4 separate regions of the Homo sapiens genome follow, and regions 1, 2 and 4 are each linked to region 3. Evidence: fine-mapped expression QTL. A gene starts in region 3. Each other region holds a variant in brackets. All regions are shown on one strand. Distances are from middle to middle.

What was found. PIP is the estimated chance that this variant, and not a neighbour inherited with it, causes the effect.
Region 1: its variant is the best candidate, but not a certain one, in a credible set for the expression of IGFBP7 in subcutaneous fat (TwinsUK, PIP 0.53).
Region 2: its variant is the best candidate, but not a certain one, in a credible set for the expression of IGFBP7 in whole blood (TOPMed, PIP 0.57).
Region 4: its variant is the best candidate, but not a certain one, in a credible set for the expression of IGFBP7 in monocytes (TOPMed, PIP 0.64).

Annotation. Positions count from the first base shown.
Region 1 is chr4:57,086,487-57,091,636 of GRCh38, forward strand. All of the region lies in intron 1 of IGFBP7 (insulin like growth factor binding protein 7), which reads right to left. Among named protein-coding and RNA genes, the nearest start is that of IGFBP7-AS1, 21 kb to the right of the region's middle. The variant G/C (reference allele first, on the strand shown) is at 1,907.
Region 2 is chr4:57,165,148-57,170,297 of GRCh38, forward strand. All of the region lies in intron 1 of IGFBP7-AS1 (IGFBP7 antisense RNA 1), which reads left to right. Among named protein-coding and RNA genes, the nearest start is that of IGFBP7, 57 kb to the left of the region's middle. The variant C/G (reference allele first, on the strand shown) is at 2,047.
Region 3 is chr4:57,107,853-57,113,002 of GRCh38, forward strand. It overlaps IGFBP7 (insulin like growth factor binding protein 7), which reads right to left and starts at 2,533. Exons shown (of 5, transcript NM_001553.3): 1 at 2,025-2,533. The coding sequence starts at 2,499. It overlaps IGFBP7-AS1 (IGFBP7 antisense RNA 1), which reads left to right and starts at 1,910. Exons shown (of 5, transcript NR_034081.1): 1 at 1,910-2,118. RefSeq lists a silencer at 2,602-2,671.
Region 4 is chr4:57,078,190-57,083,339 of GRCh38, forward strand. The region is part of intron 1 of IGFBP7 (insulin like growth factor binding protein 7); the gene reads right to left. Among named protein-coding and RNA genes, the nearest start is that of IGFBP7-AS1, 29 kb to the right of the region's middle. The variant A/G (reference allele first, on the strand shown) is at 2,756.

The sequences.
Region 1 (5,150 bases), 21 kb before region 3:
GATCTGTCATCACCTCATTACTGCCCTCTGTGTCTTTCCACCTAGCTGCTGACAGCCTGCAGGCTTGGTGGCATAGGTGGCTTGTTCCAACCCACTTATATTTTGGCATTTGTGGGGATAGCTTGTCACCTTTTTGTGGTAAATGTTTTCCATGGGGCTTGGGTTTTGGTATCTAGAGGATTTACGTTTTTGTTTTCTAATTTTAAAAAATTGTAGTAAAATACACATACAAATTTTACCATCTTATTTTTTATTTTTATTTTTGATTCCGAGTTTCGCTCTTGTTGCCCAGGCTGGAGTGTAGTGGCGCGATCTCAGCTCACTGCAACCTCCGCCTCCCAAGTTCAAGCGATTCTCCTGCCTCAGCCTTCTGAGCAGCTGGGATTACAGGCACATACCACCACGCTCAGCTAATTTTTGTATTTTTAGGAGAGACTGGGTTTCACCATGTTGGCCAAGCTGGTCTCGAACTCCTGACCTCAGGTGATCCACCTGTCTCGGCCTCCCAAAGTGCTGGGACCACAGGCGTGAGCCACTGCTCCTGATCTAGTGGCTCAGTTATTATGAGGAGATTGAATACAGGAGACCGACACACTGTTGCTGCTTCAGCCCCATTTAACGGTAACCCCCTGGAAACTGGAGTCTGTGTTCTGTGCCCCACAGCACCAGGATGGCACCTGACACATAGAAAACACTCACACATTTAAGTGATAAATGAGTCATTCTTAATTCCTCTGTCTTTTGGCAGGGTGATAGGATGCTTTCTTGTACTCATTAAAGTGATTGATGGATAACATAAAAGTTGCCATTGGTACCTGGACTAATACCTTTGCAGGTCAATATGCAGCATGAGCTTCTAGATGGGAAAACACTGCCAACCCTTGAGTACCCAACTAATGAAGGGCAGGAGAGGAACAGACTATCTCAAAAGGATGCCAATTTTAAAATACTTTATATTTTGCTCTGTATAAATTTGTTGTAGCAGATTCCTTACTAACTGTTTGGTTCTGGCTAATGTTATAACACAGGAGTCCCTGGGCACTACTTGCTGATAGTGATTTGAAGGGGAGGAGTGGACCAGAGGTATATAGGAAAAAAGTAAATAACTGACACAGCTATACGCAAGGTTATATCAGTTAACTGACTGGGCATATTTGAGAGTTGTTACTACAATAGTTGGTAAAGTCAGAGGGAATACAATCTTGGATTCATAAAGGCCTAACAGTTACAAAGGCTTTCAAATCTGTGACTTCGTTTATTTCCATAACCCTAACCCTAATCCTTTAATACAGGTCCTGCTTGCTCCATTTCACAGGTGAGACAACAGAGGGACAAAGAGATTAAGCAATGTGCCAATGATCACTGTTAGTCAATGTATAGTCAGGATTCAGATGCTTGGCCAGGTGTGGTGGCTTATGCCTGTAATCCCAACATTTTGGGAGGCTGAGGCAGGAGGATTCAGACTCTTTTCTTCTAAGTTTAGTACTTTATGTTTATTTTGATACAGGGCTTTGCTTTGTCACCCAGGCTGGAGTGCAGTGGCACAATCACGGCTCACTGCAGCCTCAAATTCCTAGGTTCAAGTGATCCTCCTACCTCAGCCTCCTGAGTAGCTGGGACTACAGATATGCACTACCACACCTGGCTAATCTTTTGTTTTGTTTTGTTTTGTGGAGACAGGGTCTCACTATGTTGCCCAGACTGGTCTTGAACTCCTAGTCTCAAGTGATCTTCCTGCCTCAGCCTCCCAAAGTATCGGGATTAGAGGTGTGAGCCACCATGCCCAGGCAGTTTAGTGCTTTTTACAGCACTATTGCTGTATCTGAAAAGCATGGTGATGTAAACTGCCACAAATATAATGTTAAAATAAGGTAGGCTATAAATTGTAAGTATATAAAAATATTGA[G/C]GTTCCGACCAGTTTGGGCAAGAACAGCCCTCATTTTCTCCATATAATACCATCCAATCATTCCTACCACTCTCAGTTTCTGCTTCTACCCTTCATCCCATCTCTAGTTATCCCTCCAGAAAAAGAGGGAAGAATGAAGGTAAAAGTACCATAGTATGACATTTGAGGGCTGTTTCTGAAGCATTAGCCACTACTACTAATGATAAAAGCAACGGCCAGATTGAGACCCTATTGTGTGGCAAGCACTATGCTTAGAACCTCATATGAAGTTAATACTCTCACCAACCCTTTGGGTAAGCAATATTGTCCCCACTTTAAAGATGACAAAACTGAGGTTAAGAGGAGCAACTTGCTGGCTGGGCACGGTGGCTCACGTCTGTAATCCCAGCATTTTGGGAGGTCAAGGCAGGCGGATCATCTGGAGGTCAGGAGTTCGAGACCAGCCTGGCCAACGTGCTGAAACCCCATCTCTACCAAAAAAATACAAAAATTAGCTGGGTGTGGTGTTGGGCACCTGTAATCCTAGCTACTTGGGAGGCTGAAGCAGGAGAATCGCTCAAACCTGGGAGGCAGAGGTGGCAGCGAGTGGAGATCACACCACTGCATTCCAGCCTGAGCAACAGAGTGAGACTCTGTCTCAAAAAAATAAAAAAAAAAAAAAAGAGAGGCAACTTGTCATTTAATAATCACACATTTAGTAAGTGGGGGAGTGGGGATTTGAACCCCACCCTCTCCAAAACATTAATCTCCATAACATGTATGACTTAAATAAGCTTAAAAACACTACAATAATTAGAAATTCACCTTACTTAGATCTGAGGATGAATTGAAGTTTATACAATTTATAAAAATGAAAGTAGACTTTTTTAAAGCAGTTTTACTGCATCTATCCATATACAATTATAACTTTTTCTGTTTTTGAGTTCATTTTAAAATTATCCCTTTCCACATATTAAATTAAATCAGGCAGGAACCCTCAATTCTGGTAGCCATTATTTCTGTGAAGGAAAGAGTGAAATGTCATTTCAAAATGGACTCTATGTGGTTTGACATCTTTCAGATAGGACTTCTTTCCACTGAACTTTGGGAAAGACATATTTGCTACAAAGCTTTCCATTTTTCCCCCCAGCTATGACCTATTTTATCATCTGATTTCACACTTCAGTGAAGTCTGATGGGGTCTGTGGTCTCTAAAACACTAAGCTTCTAGTCACCCTTTGAATTCACCTTCAGCAACTGTGTCTGAAATGAAAAGCTAAAAAGAACTGCTGCCCAGCTATGGCAGACAATGTAGCCGGCTGACTCAGCCCCAGTGTCCACCACCCCCTTCTCTGTCTCTTTTGACAATAGGGTGTCCCAGTGATCATTTCTGGCCAATGAGATTAGGCAGAAATTTGCTGAGTATGGGCTTCTGGGAAACATTTGCTCACCTGATATAATGGGACATGTGGCTGGCATTGTCCTTTTCTCTATTCCTTCTAAATGTCTTTAATGATGACGATGATCTGAGGTGCAGAAGCCTTCTTGCAATTATTAAGCATGTATACAAAAGCCAACATGCAAAGGATGATAGAGCAGAAAGAGTGAAAGGACCCTGGTCCTTGACAGCACTGCTGAGTGGTTAAAGCCACACCAGAAACCATCTACACCTAAACTCCCTGTTCTACAAGCAAATAAACCCCATTTTGGCCAAGCCACTAGAGCCAAGTTTTCTATTACTTGCAGCTGAACACATTCTTTACCAATAGACCAGCTATTGTCCTTCTTGGTCATCATTCTTCTCTTCCTCTTCCCCAAATCCCACCATCTCCTTATATGTTGAGGGATTGATTCAGAAAACTGCCGTCAACTGTTCCTTCACTCTTTGTTTGCGTAAGAATTTCCTGAGTCTTGCTACCATGAGAAACGTAGTATTTCCTGCTTTCTTGTCAGTGTCTGAAGTTAGGCTTTCTAGTTCTTATGATATACCCTATTGTTTTTAAGGACTTAGTGGGTCACAGTCACATCTTATTCTGTAGTGTTGAAACACACACACAAACAACAATAAAGTCTCCCCAGAGCACTCAATTTTATTCAAACTGACTGAACAGTTAATTTGTTCCTCACAAAGTTCTTAATGCTCTTCAGTGATAGAGGTTTTATTTTTAGAAAACATGTGAGAAGGCAGGGCATGGTGGCTCACACTTGTAATCCTAGCACTTTGGGAGGCTGAGGCGGGCAGATCACTTGAAGTCAGGAGTTAGAGACCAGCCTGGCCTATGTGGTGAAACCCCGTCTCTACTAAAAATACCCATACACACACAAAAATAGCCAGGTGTGGTGGTGCACGCCTGTAATCCTAGCTACTTGGGAGGCTGAGGTGGGACAATTGCTTGAACCCGGGAGGCAGAGGTTGGCAGTGAGCTGAGATTGCACCATTGCACACTCCAGCCTAGGTGACACAGCAAGACTCCATCTCAAAAAAACAAAACAAAACATGTGAGAGCAACAGTTTATTTGATCACCTTTTCTAGTTTAGTTAACATTTTTCACAGAAAATGAAATTATACATTGGTTATTTTATTCAGCAGAGCTCAGAGATCCAGGCCATGTGTATTCTTTGGGAGTTGGATCACCTGTAATTAACCACGCATATAGGAACCTGGGGGATAATTTTATCATGCTATGTTAGACAACTGCCACTGCCAACACCTGGAATTTAAGTTGCTTTAATTTACCAAAACAAAGCCTTAGAGTCTCTGGATGTGTTTCTTCAAAAACACACACACGGTTGAACAAAACAGGCAAAAGCATATGCACTTCCACATACTGGTAATGACCAGAGTAACTGGAGACTGTGGAAATGCAGAGTATTAACTATGCAGGGAATTTAATGTAGGAGATACAAGATTAGGAATGGAAGAACCATGAATGAATGAATGAGTGAGTGAAGCATATTTATGTTTAACTGCTTCTGACACTCAATTTTAGCTTCCTTTGGATTGAAATGTGGGTACATGTGTGTGTGTCCGTGTACACACCAACTCACCTGGATTCCTCATTCCAGCTTCATTCAATTCCCATTAGCAGTGGCTCTGCTTGGACACTCAAACACACTGAATCTTGGTTGCCTAATTTATTAATACAATGTGAGGATAATACTTTACCACAGGGTTATTGTGAGGATTAAAAAAGGTGATATGCATATGAACATATGTGAAAATTCTTAGAAAATGCACTGTGCTGTTACTGTTCCTATCTCCCA
Region 2 (5,150 bases), 57 kb after region 3:
AATCTGTAGACAAAGGGGTGTGTAAAAGATGAGTTGCCTGAGGGAGCAGGCTGAGGTAGGAGGAGGACAGAGCAGACAGAGGTAGTGGAGAGGGCCAGAGTGCCCCAGAAAGCTCTGTTTCGTTCCTCAAGAAACTCAACAGTCTCTTAATTTTGGAAGGTTTTTCTTTTTAAACTTTTTAAATTATTATTATTATTTTTTTTTTTTAGAGACAGCCTTGCTATGTTGTCCAGGCTGGTCTCGAACTCCTGACTTCAAGTGATCCTTCCACCTCGGCCTCCCAAAGCACTGGGATTGCAGGTGTGAACCACTGTGCTTGGCCTATGAAGGTTTTTCTATATTCTGTCCATAGCCCCTTCATCTTGAGCCAGTGCAGAACTGTAGCTAATTCATGAAGAAGCAGAGGACATGAAAAGGAAGGAAAGGGAAGACGGGCTGCTGACAGAATCAGCAAGGTTTAGCAGGCAGCTCCACTGGGCTGGCAGAGTTGGGAGGTTAGTGGCTGTTGTGGTGGTCGGGGAAGCAGAGAGGTTAAATTCCACATTCCCATGAACTTACCACTCCCCTTCCTGAAAATCCCCACATCCCACCTATTGCTGGATCTTAGCAGGTTGGTCAGCCATGACTCCAAAAGTCAAATGCATTTGCAAGTGTCACTAGACTTGTGGAGTGGGATAATACCAAAAGACAAACCCTGTCAAGTATTTATGGAATGCTTATTTTATAAGCATTTAAGGAAAGGGCTGAGGTGAGAAATAAAACTGAGTAAGATAAGATGCCTACCTTCAAGGAGATCCTCAGGGAACACAGGCACTTGAACATAGCACGGGCACTAACATAGAATTAAGTTCAAAATGCCACATGAATACATACAGGAGAAGGGAAAATTAACTCCGCCTTTGATGAGGGTGGGAAGGAGCCAGGGAGAACTTCAAAAGGGGAGGTGACTTTTGAGCTGGACCTTGAAGGATGAGTAGGAGTTTGTCAGACAGAGAAGAGAGATTTGCATTCTAGGGAAAGAGAGCAAAGTGTCAAAAGAATACAAGTGCATGGTGTATAGGAAGACTTTTAGTACTGTGGAGTATCTTTGTTGTATGCATATGGGGTTGGGGTTGGGGTTGGGGGTGTCAGTGGCAGCAGATGACAGGGAAAAAGGAGGCAAGGGCCAGAATGTGAAGGACCTTGAATGTCAAGATTAGGAGCTTGGACTTGATCCTGAGGACACTGTGAAGCCACAGAAGCTTTTAATCAGGGAGTCTTATATTAGCTGCCTTTGGAAGGACAACCGCAGACTGAATAGAGGATGCCTGGAAAGAGGAGAGAGCAGAGGAGGTCAGTCACATCGCCTGAACTCAGCTGCAGCTGATAAACTTTCTAGCAATATCCTGGGGCTTAGAGAAGAACAGGCAGGCTGTACATTTTAACTGATTGAAGCATTGTCCTCAAGGAGGGCTGATGAATCCGTGCATGCTCACCATTAGCACGGAGGGTCATGGTTCTACTACTGAGCCACAGGGTGCTGCATTCATTCATTAATTCATCCAGCAAACATTCATTAAATGTCTCCAAGGGCCCAGTTTAGTCTGTCCTCTTCAGCCTCAGGGATTGGTTCCACCATACCGAGGGTACCAAATCCACAAATGCTCAAGTCCCTTACATAAAATGGCATAGAACAGTTGGCCATTTGGTAGATTCACCAACCAAGAATGGAAAATATGTACGTACAGCTGGCCTTCGGTGTCACTGGGTCTTTATCAGCAGCTGGTTGAATCCATGCATGCAAAACCGGTAGATACAGAGGGCCAACTGTACAGCTTTGGTGCTAAGGATAACATGGGCAGGAAGTAGGCATGGCCCCTGCTATCATAGAGTCTGTTGTTGAGGGAGAGAGACAGCTATTAATCAGATGATTTCATGACCTAGTGCATAAATTTCCCATTTGGAAGGAAAAGAATATAGTTCGGTGAAAGTGTATAACAAAGAACTCCCCCTGGCCTCAGCTTTGGCTAAGATGCAGAGCACTACTGGGAATTTACCAGGTGAGAG[C/G]AGGGGGTTGCAGGAGAAGGAGCAGAATGTGCAAAGGCCCCGTGGCCTGAAAGAACATGGTATGGTTGAGGAACTGGAAGACTGTGTGATAGGGCATCAAAAGAAGACTGAGATGAGCTAGTGAGAGAGACAGGAGCCAAGCCATTGGATCTTTTCCTGTCCAGGTCAAGCTTTAGATAAAGTATTTGTTTAGAAGAATAGGTCAGTTAAATCTGAATGATGCAAAGCTGAGAGGACAAGTGGAACATTTGAATTGCAGAATCAAGATTTAAGACAATCTTGCAGGTCTAAATTAAAAGTGATGGAATTAAACAAATGTAAAGTTCTACATTTATGTTAAAAGTTTTAATTGACTTGCAAAGCTTTGTGTATAAGGATGCTTATCACTGCATATTTATAGCAGTGAAAACATGGGAAAGAAGAAATATGCAACTGTAGGAAAATGATTAAATATGCGATGTGTTAAAAAAAAATGAGAACATTAGCACTGAAGGTTACTTGGGTTCAAATGCTAGCTTCTTTTACTAGCCGTAGGTCATTGGACAAGTTACGTAAACTTTTTGTGCCTCAGTTTTCTTATCTAGCATATGGGGTTAATAATACTGCCTCACATAGTAGATACTAAATAACCGCTACATCAGTTTTAGCTATTGTCATTACCTAGTAGTATTATGTTTACAAATATGTTTAATGTCATTAGAAAATGCTTGATAGATAATATTAAGTGGGGAAAAACATATAGCATTATGCAGTTTAATACCATTTTGTTGCAAATTGTGTGTATTTGTATTTTTGTGTTGCTTATGTCTTTTGCTTCAACTTGGGGTGTAAGAAATGATCACATGTGGCCAGGCGCGGCAGCTCACGCCTGTAACCCCAGCACTTTGGGAGAGCGAGGCAGGTGGATCATGAGGTCAAGAGATGGAGGCCATTCTTGCCAACATGGTGAAACGCTGTCTCTACTAAAGATACAAAAAATTAGCTGGGAATGGTGGCATGCACCTGTAGTCCCAGCTACTCGGGAGGCTGAGGCAGAAAAATCACTTGAACCTGGCAGGCGGAGCTTGCAGTGAGCCGAGATTGCGCCACTGCACTCCAGCCTGGTGACAGAGTGAGACGCCGTCTCAAAAAAAAAAAAAAAAAAAATGAAATGGTCACATGTCTCCACTGAACTGAGTCATTGATCTCCTCTTCCCAGCACCATGAGAACCATCCCCTGACCAGCTGTGACAGCGCAGACAGGAATGGCCCAAGGCTGGGTAGCCAACAGCTTTCACCAGTCTGCAGGATGGTAGCATGCATAGATTTATCAGCATTAACATGCTCGTTTCTCTTTCCCAGTGTTTTCCTTTCTGTGATACATTTAAGGTTCCACAGTCCCAGTTTATTCAGGCTAAAGGATCAGTGATACTCCCAAATCCCTTGTAGAGACAGCACTGGAAAATATGATGGGTCCACCGTGGGCTGCATTTGCTGTTCCCTAACACCAGTGCCTGCTAAAAGCAGCTGTCCACACAGCCTTGAGCTATCACTGTCTGTGCTGTCACAGCTGGTCAGGGGATAGTTCCTACGGAGCTGGGAAGAGACCTCTTCTCACTGTCTTATGCCAGCACGGCTCTGGGTTCTCAATGTTTCAGCCTCTTAGTTTGTCCTCATATATACGATTCTCAAACCATGCCCATGGGGCTGCAGTGGCTGCTGCGGTAGAAGGTTCCAGCCTTGGCAATGTGCTATACCTACAACACCTCCCCACTAACACCAACAATTTAGTAATCCAGGCTCCTGCAGAGGACCCACTGAGCTTATCAGAGATGTTTGGAAACGAGTGAACCTAAGGAGAAGTAGTTGGGAGTCTTGATTTGTTTTCTCCTAGGAGGCTTCTAGCCCCCCTCTCAAATGGGCTCAACTATTTAGTACTTCCCAGTGACATTTGGCCTTGGTATCCTGGGGAACAAATGGGGAGCTGAGAAAAAACATTGCCTGTGACTAACATTCCTGCCTTTGGTCGATGAGCGCCTCTGCCTTAAATTTGCAAAGCTAAAAGAAACTGCCTGGGTGATTGTTTCCAGAACAAAAAAATGTGTCCCAGGATGACTTGTTAGACATGGAAGTGGCTGGCAACTTTTAACTTGCAGATTTTCTTGCTAAAAGTTTAAAATTCTGTCTCATTGGGGATACTGCTACATATTCATGAAAAAGAAATTGACTATTAAGAACTACACCACAATATTAGCCATGCCTACCTTTGAGTGGTGGGATTCCAATGGACTGTTTTATTTTTTATTTTGTTTTGTTGTTCAGATTTCTGACAACAAATATGTATTACTTTCACAATTAGAACTATAGATCCTGCCAATAAGTTTACTTAGATCCGTCCTATTTGTTTCAAATGACAACCCCATCCCTGGCAGGCAGATTTGGCTCTCCCTTGGTACCAGTGAGAGGCCACTGGGTCTGTAATACAGGAGTTCTGTATAGCCACAGAGAAGGAGGTTTGCAGTTAACCTCCATTCTGGGCTCTAACTCTCTCTGAGTTCTAAGTCCTCCAACAAGGCTGCCATTCACAGCCACCCCTTCCCAAAGGCTGCCATTGGGAAGTGTGTGTAGGGTCCCCAAGTCCACCCTCAGGTTTGATGATTCACTAGAAGGAGTCAGAGAACGCAGAAAAGCTGTTATACTCCCAGTTATGGTTTATAGAGCAAAAGATACAGATTAAAATCAACAAAGAAAAAAGATATACAGAGTAGAGTCAAGGAGAAATTAGACAGAAGCTTCCAGATGTTGTCACCCAGTGGGGTCACATGGATACCACTTAATCCCCCCAGCACTGATGTGTGGCAACATGCATAAAGTATTGCCAATTTGAGTCTTGGTGTTCAGGGTTTCTATGAGGGGTAAGTGACATAGGAAAAGAACACTTATGTGGCTGACCTTAGCTGCTGAGGCTGCAGCTTCCCCAGAGGTCAAACTGATGGAGCATGGTCGGGTGAATCAAACCAAGGATTTGCCACACATCACCTTGTTAGCATAAACTATCTGTTGTGGCTTAGGGATCCAGGTATACAAAGACACGCTTTTTTTCAGACAGGATATTCCAAAGTCTG
Region 3 (5,150 bases):
TATTTTATAATCAGACTGTGTGAGTGTTTGGTGATGTAAGTAGCAGGTGAGAAAAAGGAATATTAAGTATAAACTAGAAATTGACAACACTTGAACAATCACCAAGCTAACCTTCTGCTCTGATAAGGCAAGTATCTGCCATTTTGAAAAAACTATAAAGTTCCCCATTGTAATGTTTATAAGAAAATCTCAATATTTGGAATAAATTCTTAAATAACGCACATTTATCTTTTCATGATGTGACCGACAAATGAGATCCAAAGTAACAAATAACTGTTTCTATTGTAAACATATGCAGATTATTTTGGGTTGCAATTTTCTAAGTTTAAGGTGATGATACTATAAATAGTTACTAGTGAGTTACACAATTTAAGGCTTTCAATAGTGAACTCTGAAATTGATGACATACAACCTATTAGTTTGTGGACTTCTGGGAAAAGCTCTAAAGAAAGAATTTGGAAATTCTGGAGAAAGTCTGAACTGTGTTAAAGAAGCAACAGCTTCTGTAACCTCAGAACTGCCTCCTCTCCCTTTTCTACCTTGGCTAAGATCAGGAGCTGCCAACATTGAATGTCTGACTTTCCCTTGAAAATACTGCCAATGGAAAATGTTATTTCAGGCATTAGAGTTAAAATTTCTATGTGTGTGTGTATGTGCGTGTATTTGCAAGTCCAGACTTTATTTTCTTCTTTCTTTCTTTTTTTTTTGAGATGGGGTCTCTGTCTGTCACCCAGGCTGGAGTGCTGTCATGTGATCTCGGCTCACTGCAACCTCCGCCTCCCAGATTCAAGCGATTCTCCTGCCTCAGCCTCCTGAGTAGCTGTGATTACAGGCATGCACCACCATGCCCAGCTAATGTATATATATATATTTTTTATTAGAGATGGGGTTTCACCGTGTTGGTCAGGCTGATCTCGAACTCCTGACCTCGTGATCTGCCCATCTTGGCCTCCCAAAGTGCTGGGATTACAGACGTGAGCCAACCCACCCGGCCTATTTCCTTATTTCATTTACAGCAAGCTTGGACTTGTTTGGAATAAAATAAACAATCAAACATAATCTCAAAGACATTTCTGCTGAACAGTGTATCCTGGGGACAAATTATGCAAAACAATACAAATCAAAGAAATAGGAAGGAAAAACAAAATGGTCAGAAGGTTGACAACAAAGTGCATCACAAAAACAGTCTTCAAAGAGTTTGTATTTTATTTTTGCCCACAAATAATTAGCTAGTTAGATTACTGTTTGAGAACCTATAATTTTTAGAAAGTGGACTATTTTCTTCAATACTAAGAAATCAGGGCTGTGCACGGTGGTTTATGCCTGTAATCCCAGCAGGCCGGGATTACTTGAGCTCAGGAGTTCGAGACCAGCCTAGGCAACATAGTGAAACTCCGTCGCTATAAAACAAAACAAAACAAAACAAAAAACCAAAAATTGGCCAGGCGTGGTGGCACAGGCTTATAGTCCCAGCTACTTGGGAGGCTGAGGCAGGAGGATCGCTTGAGGCAGAGGTTGCAGTGGGCCAAGATCGTGCCACTGCCCTCCACCCTGGGCGACAGAGCAAGATCCTATCTTTTAAAAAAAAAAGTCTGTCTGGAAGTCCTTACTTTATATTTAATTGTCAAACTCCTTTCCCCCATCTCTTGACTTCACCTCTCTCTACATCCCCAAGCCAAGAATGATGAGAAATGGACAGATGTTAGCACGAGTTGGGTGCGCTTTGGGCATGGGGAAGTCTGAGGTCTCGGAAAATCTTTTCTACATATACACCCGGCCCTCACTTTCTGGACGCACGCAGCAAACTCTCAAAATAAAACCACCAAAAAGGAGAAGGGGGGGCGTCGCCCACCGCTCCTGGCATTCCGCGGCTGCCAACTCTTTCCCTCCCATCTGGCTCCTGGGATGCCCGCGGGGGAATCGCAGTGAGCAGCGCGGGGCGAGGCCGCCGCGGACGCCCCGTCGGATGTGCCCTTCGCTGGGCCGAGCGGCGCAGGGTTGGAGAGGGAAGCGCTCGTGCCCACCTTGCTCGCAGGTGCCCTTGCTGACCTGGGTGATGGCCTTCTCCCCGCGGCTCTCGGCCCTCTGGCTGGCGGCGCGCAGCTGGCAGCCGCTCGGGTAGGTGGTGCCGTCGCTGCCGCACACCGGGTAGCGGCTCTTGCACACGCACACGCCGCTTACACCCGGACCGCCGGCTGCTGCCCCGGCTTTACCCTTCCGCCTCTTGCGGCTCTTCACGCACTCCATGCCCGGCGCGCAGTACCCCCTGCCGGCGCCGCCACCCCCGCACGGCTCGCCCTCGCCGCGGGCGCACATAGGGCAGCAGCCGCACGCGTCGCGGGTCTCGCCCAGCAGGCAGCCCAGCGGGGGCAGGGGCGGGCAGGAGGCCGGCTCGCAGGGGCCGCAGGTGTCCGAAGAGGAGGAAGAGGAGAGGGGCAGGAGCAGGAGCAGCAGCCCAGCGGCGCCGAGGAGCAGGGCGCGCAGCGACGGCCGCTCCATGGCGGGGTGCGGTGGCAGCGGCAAGGGCGCGAGTGAGCCGTGTCGGGCCGGCCGGCGCCTTAAACCCGCCGCCCCGCCCGGCCTGTCCGCGGGAACCACACCCCGGGGCGGTGAGAGCACGGGGGCCCCGCCCGTGCCGCCCTCCCGGCCCCGCGGGGCCTGCGCGCGCGCTCCTGCTGGCGTCGGGGGGTGAGCGGGCACCCGGCGTGACCGGCCCATGGGCGCTCGGTCTCACGCCCGCTTCGCAGAGCTCACCCCGCCAGCTCCTGCTCGGTCCCCAGTCCCCTGCCCCGAGCCCTCAGGGATCGCACCGCAGTGCGAGCGGCTCTTCCACCCTCTGGTTTCTCCCCGTTTCCGGTCAATATATTTAAACTTCTTAACAACCACGGCTTCGAGACGATCCAGGGTTTCATCTATTAAATCCTCCGTGGGCCTGAGACACCTGAGTGCTCATTACTCTGTGGTTTGGGAAGCTCTCTTAAGAACAAGCTGTTAAAAACCCCCACTTGTGGACTGTGTCCCCGCTGGCCACAGGCCTGCTGTGGTCTTGGGTGTCAAGCACTAAAAGGACAAACCGTTGCCAACCACTTCCCTTTCTGGAACCTCTTAACTGCCTGCACCTCCCTCCCCGCTTTGTCTCCCAGTGGCATTCAACAAGACTCTGTGCTTTTTTTGTGCTGAGCCGTTTTCAGTGAGTACTGGAATCCGTGTGAGAGCTGTGCCCTTGTTTTGAGTTCTTGCTGAACTGCTCGCCCTCCAGCAAGCCTCTCGGGAGAACAGAGCGCAGCTGAGAGGAGCAGGGGTCCCAGCTCCTTCCTCGTTGGAGCTGCCACGGAGGCACCTAAAGCGCCCCCAGTCTTCACCAGCATTCCAGGAGGTTTTTGATATAAACGGTGGACTCTTCCTCAGTCTTTCTGCGAAGTGCTCTGCAAACTCAACTTGAAAGCCTCTCTTCCCAGGAACACTGGCCTCTCCAATGCAGACATGGAAGTTGCTTTCACTTTTTAACTGAATGTGTAACATTGCAGCGTGCATTATTCTGCATGTCACATTGTGGTTCTTTTGTGTTCTTTTTTCTTAGCATAAATCCAGGGATTTACAGGGTTGCTGACTGAAAGCCAGCAGTTCAGTTCATAATCCCATTAGCAGTGTAAAGAACTCATTCTCAACAGACTCTTACAAGGATAATTATTGCAAATTTTTTGAAAATTAAATGACCACAAAATCGGGGGGTGGAGAGTGGGGAAACATCCTCCAATCCAGAAAAACCTAGCACTGCTTTTTGGCCTCTCCTTAGTGTATTATAGACAAGTGGAGCATTTTTTTTCCCCTCAAAGGTCATATGTTGACCTGACAGTTGTTTAAAAAACAATGAAAAATCTTTACAGCAGAGTTTCCCTAAATATTTTTGTCTTTGTTCCATCCTAAGAGATGCAGTTTACATGACCCATTTGTTTTCTTGAAAAGGAAACAAATGCAGAGTGCACTCTATTTCCTATTGTATTTAATTTCTTTCTTTCTTTCTTTTCTTTTCTTTCTTTTTCTTTTTTTTATTTTTTTGAGATGAAGTCTCCCTGTGTCGCCTAGTCTGGAGTGCAGTGGTGAGATTTTGGCTCACTGCAACCTCTGCCTCCCAGCTTCAAACAATCCTTCTGCCTCAGCCTCCCGAGTAGCTGGTATTACAGGCATGCACCAACATGCCCGGCTAATTTTTGTATTTTTACTAGAGACAGGGTTTCACCATGTTGCCCAGGCTGGTCTCAAACTCCTGACCTCAAGTGATCCACCTGCCTCGGCCTCCGAAAGTGTTGGGATTACAGGTGTGAGCCACTATGCCCGGCCCTGATTTCCTTTTTATTAATTCACTGGTCAAGAGCCACTAAATTGGTTCCATGATCTAGTATGACGATCTGTCATAGTTTTAGATTCTCCAGAAGCTTTCTCTGAGACAAGGATTCCAGTGCAAGTAGGTCACCTGAGAAGCCACATCAGGACACAGAGATTGAGGGTTGGGGCAGGCAGGTGAGCAAGCAGGAAGGGAAGACAGCCAATAAAGGTGCTTATCTCCGCAGCCAGAAGAAGCCCTCAGGCTCTACAAACTGTGTGTGTGTGTGTGTGTGTGTGTGTGTGTGTGTGTGTGTTTGCGTGTGTAGGGCATGTGGGTGGGCAGTGGCAGCAGCTGTACACTAAGAGCTGTCACCCACAGTGTGTGGAGGTCCTGCATCAGAGCCAACAGTGAGAATGCAAGCATGTGCTACAGCGGAGTCCCTTTGAGGAACCTCCTCACTGCCCAGCAAGCAAAGAAAACAAGCAAGTTTCTGGTCACTGAAAGGGGAACCCGAGCTCTGTGATAGTGCCAGTCGAGCTGGAGGACCTGAAAACAAGAAGAGATGTTAGAAAAAAGGCAGGTGAATGGAGCCTTTAAAGAGCAAGTTGACAACTCCACCCTTCCAATAACAGATATATTGTCACCTGTTCAGCTTCAGTTTTAGTGAGGTGGAGAGGCTGGATGTGGAGATGGAGATATTTTTACTTCTTCCTGTTTAATTGGTGCCTTTTGTTTCTTTTTCTTGCTTAATTGCCCTGGTTAGAACCTCCAGTATAATGTTGAATAGAAGAGGTGAGTGGACACCCTTGTCCCAGTCCTCACC
Region 4 (5,150 bases), 30 kb before region 3:
GGCATTCATATGTGTAAATAATTTAACCCTCACGACAGCCCTGTGAGGTTCGTACTGTCTCCTATTTTACAGAGGAGGAAACTGAGACACAGAAAGGTCGAGTAACTTGCCCAGTGCTACAAGGCTCATAAATGATAGAGCTGGGATTAAAAAGCTAGACACCTCCTAACCACTATTCCATATTACCTCATAGGTAACCTAAAATTCTGCCTCAACAAATTAATTAGCCACTGCACAAGTAAACTACTTGGTGTAGCTGATGGGAAAGCGGTAAAACTCGATTTCAAACTTGTCTAAAAAAAAAAAAGAAAAATGGTAAAAGATCCACTGTTTGCCTTCAGTCTCCTCTTAGTCTTCAATGCAGTTCTTCCAGCTCTTAATCTGAAGAGCTTCGCTCCTGCTTAATGATTTCTCTTCCTCCCCTCTCACAGAACACCCTTACCCTTGATGGGCCAGTGATATAAATATGCATTTCCCATTCACTTGTGAGTTTAGGATTTTTTTTTTTTAAAGAGCTCTACCATGTTCCTTTGATCTTTGCTTTTTATGCAGACGGGGTCCACAGAGAACCAGCTAATCCAGAGCCTACAGAGCCCGGAGCACAGTCAGGCATTTCAGAAATGCACATGGATGGTAACTAGGAGATTTCTTGAACAATAGAAAGTTCCCAACAAAGCTGTTAGGGCTCAAGAGGACCAGCTCCACCACCCACCCCTGCTGATCTGGGAGCTGCTACCTGGGCTGAGCTGGCTCCCGTCCACAGGGCCCCCAGTTCTCTGGCTCAATTCAATACCTCCTGCTGCGGTGGCTTGTTTCTTCTTGTCCTGAATGTTGTTCTTCAGAGCTGATGATTAATGCCTTCCATTTAGGGTGAGAAAAATGACCTTGCTGTCTATGCAAGTGAGGATCATTTATTCCATCTACAAAAGCAGCACACATCTACTTGGCTCAACTCAGAGTATTTCTCTTTGCTGTCTTCTTGTTAAACACGATCGTTTCTTCAAGCGAGGTTTATGTTGTCTTGTGATTTCCCTTTTTTGGTGTGTGTGTGTGTGTTTTAAAAAAACAAATTGCAGGTGATACGTGGCATTTTGCATTGCTAAAATTCACATCCCACTGTACTTCATTAGTAAAAGCCATTTATCCCCCACCTTTCAACACTGCTGGCTGAGACGCAAATAGAACCATTTCAGTTTTCCAGTTGAACAGCCATGGGAAAAAAAAAAGAGCAGAGCCTTGCTTATCTCTGTGTTACACATTAACACGGTCCTCCTTTGCAGAGGTTCTTCAAGGTAGACAGACTTTAAAAAGTCAAATAATTGACAGAATAATTACCCTGGCACTCCAAGGCCAATGCAAATGCTGGGATGTAGCCTTCAGCTAAATTCTACACTGAAGTTTCAGTCTTCAGGAAAGTAATAGAAAATGAAATGCAAAGGAAAGGGAATTTCCCAATTTCTCCACTAAGATTTTTTTTAAACCTCAAGTGAAAAAAATCTAGTAAGTCAAATTCTATATGAAATCTTCCCAGTTATCTTCTGTCCAACATCTAACAGCGCTTTTCCTATCACTCTCATGCTATTTGTCTCATTAATAATTGTTAATAATAAAAGTTACTACTGTCCTTACCATTGCCTCTATTATCATTTACTGAGTTTACTGTATGCCAGGCACAGTGCAGGCTCATCCATATATTATCTCAGGTAATCCTCACAGAAATCTAGTTAAGTGGCTATGCTTATTACCCCATTGTAGAGATGAGGAATTGGAGGCTTTGAGAGGTTAAATAACTTGCCCAGAATCACAGAGCACATGGGAAGCAGAGCCAGGATTCAGGGTAGGTTTGACTCTAGAACTTCCATCCTGACCACGATTCCCACGGTTTTCTGAGTGATGGCCTATTGACATGGCCCTTTAGCCCAACACAGGGTCTCCCACAGGGCTTGGTGGGTACCTGAATGAATGAATGACTACAAGAATGAATGAACCAATGACAAAGTGAATGAGATTTCTGAAGACTGGATTTTCAAAATAACATACTTTATCTCAGTAAGAAAAGCAAGAAATGTCTAAAACTGAGTATGGGAATACTTAGGACTTTAAAATGAGATAATTTCTCTACCTGTCTAAGATTCAAAGGAGGGAAATTGACACTGCTGCATTCTACTCACATTGCCCGAGTGCTCCAGCCTACAGGGGTTATAGCTGAAACAACGGAAGCTGATATATTCAAAAGAATATTGATTGCAGACACACGAAGGGTTTTCCTAAAGTTGGTATCAGAACCTTTCTTCCAATACTGAGTCCCCATCTTCCCATTTAGAGGAAGATTTTGAGTGAAATTTATTTTATTTTTTGAGACAGGATCTCACTTTTCACCCAGGGTGGAGTGCAGTAGCATGATCATGGCTCACTGCAGCCTCTAACTCATAGGCTCAAGTGATCCTCCCACTCCAGCCTCCTAAGTGGCTGGGACTACAGATGTGCACCACCACACCTGGCTGACATTTTCTTTTCTTACTTTTTATTTAGAACTGACCAGAGAGAATACTAGTCTTACTCACTCACCCTATGCCTACCGTGCACACCGATCCAGGAAATGTCAGGAGACAAACCAAACAGCCAATGAAAAGGAAAATGCTAAAAGACATTAGCTGGATCAGCACCACCAATGAAAGTGTGTTGGGTCACAAAAACGACCTGCAGCTTTCCTTTCCACTGCCAAGGGGATATCTCTGTTGGCTTCCGCTCATCA[A/G]TCTCTCCTCCTTGGCCCTGGCCAATGTTCTCAGAATGTCTCCGGTGGGCTGAGGATGCTGACAGATGCCATCTGGTCCTTCTCACCTTTCCTTTCCTGGAAGTCAACACCCATTTCCTCTATGGAGCTTCCCCCTTTTGTCAGCAGGGGAAGTGAAGATCCCAACCTGGGTACTTAAAATGGGCCTTGAGTGATACTTTCTGGAACATTCTTAGCTTCAGGGCAGGGCCCAGGGAAAGTGCCTCTAATGATCCTAATGTTAGTTTTAAACTTGCTTGGTAATCACTTTGGAATTGCCCATTTTTTTTTCACAGAGCTTTCTGGCCCATACTCAGCTATGGGTTCTAAGTCTGAAAGCCTGTTAGGGCATTAAAAATGACAGCTGTTAAAATGCTTAAGAATTATGAAGGGAGGAAGCTAATGCTTAGATTTACCCCCCACCAGCCCCTCCCACTCACACCATAGACCACATATTTTCCCCTCAGAAAGGAAAACATTCCTGACCTCTGTTTAAATGTTTATCAGAAGTTGTCTGGACTTGTAAATTCTCTGAAGTCACACTCTTTATTAGTCACATCCTTCTTGGTGTGTGGTGTGACCCTTCTATCAGGGCAGGGGGAATGTCGGGCCTTGTGCAGAAATCATTTGGTGCGGGAAACATCAACCACCACCCAGAGATTTTCATGTAGCCCAAACACAAGCAGAAGCTGAGCAAGGACCTTGAGCTTCCCCATGGTGGCAGGGCTTCCGTTTTGAATATGTGTGAAAAAAATTCCTTAGTTCTGAGTCCGCTGGGGCCTTGATTTTAAAACAAAGCCCCAGCATGAAGTCTGGCTCCAGAGAAAGAAAAGTGGAAGTTCTAGGTCCTCAGCACAAAATAAAGGACTATTCAGAGTTCTATTCTGGCTCCAAAGTGCTGCTGCTTTGGGTTTGCAATTGAATCACCCTGCCTTCCTGGTCCTTTGACGTTGATAACTTAGCTTCTACTTGGGATTCTGTGTAAACAGTTTGCATCCAACAGACTTTGGCTTACCAGGTGAAAGGCACTGTTGTAGAACCGACTCGGGGATGCTGGTGTGTGAGAAAGAAAGGTACTACTAGAGCAACAGAAAATGCACTGATTAGCAAGTAGGGGAAGTGGGTTTTGGTACCATTTCTCCCCACATTTTACTTAGTCCTCAGTTTTTTCATCTGTAAAATGGAAAGGTTGAAGCAATGATCTAGGAGGTCCTTTGGGGTCAAGAATCCTCTTTGTCTCTACATCAGAAGTGGAGGAACAGGTGTGAGTTTCAGCCCAAGGAATATCAGTTATAATAAGAAAGACTTTCCTGAGAGAAGGCTGAGTTTACAAAGGATGCTCTGTGATTTTCCTCTTTTGACCAGTGTGGGTCCCAAATCGCGGTCTCAGAGAGCTCTTCTGGGACCTGCGTCTTTGGAGTTGCCATGTTTGAAATCTCTTAGACTAAGATGATACAGGGAAGTGGTTAGGGAAAGGTTAATGATGAACTGAAATATCACCCCAGAATCATTCTAGATCTATGAGTGTATAGTTTTAAATTTGAATCAAGTTTTTGGTAATTAGAAGAAGGAAAGAAAAGAACCTTCGAAATTTAGTTATGAGGAATATCAATGATGTAGTGGTTCAGTATTCTTTTAAAATATTTTGTTGCTATTTAAAAAATGCAAAAGTGCATGCTCACTGTAACAATTCAAATATACAAATATATAAAGAAGCAGCAAGTTGTCTACTTTTACCTCCTGATAATCCTAACCCCCCAACAACTTATATAAACTGTTTATACATATAGTTTTTATTTTTTTAATGAAAATTTCATACCTATTAACATGCAAGCTGCTTTAAATTTTTTTTAAAGTTTTATTTTAAGACACAGGGTTTGTCTATGTTGCCTAGGCTTATCTTGAACTCCTGGCCTCAAGCTTCCTGAGTAGCTGGGTCTACAGGTGTACACCACCACACCTGGCTTAAACTGCCTTTTTTTCAGTGAACAATCCATGTATTATGTATTAGCTTTATTAGTTCAATACACATAAATCAAATTCATTCTTTCCAATAGCTGCAAAATGTCCCCAAACATGGGCATAATTCTTTAAGAATATTCCAGATGTTCCAAATTCTTCTATATACAAACTATGATACAATAAATATTCTTAATACTTATGTCCCTATGCGTTAGCACTTTTGTTTCTGTAGGAGAGGTTTCCAGAAATAAGATTGCTGGGTCAAAGGGTATGAGAATGTTTAATTTTAATAAATACTCCTAGATTACTTTTGAAAAGCTTGTTAGGAATTCTGGTCTTGGCAATAGTGCAGGAAGGTCCCCATTTCCCTGCACATTTCCCAGCAGTGGGAGTGAGAAATTTTCAAAAAATTTGG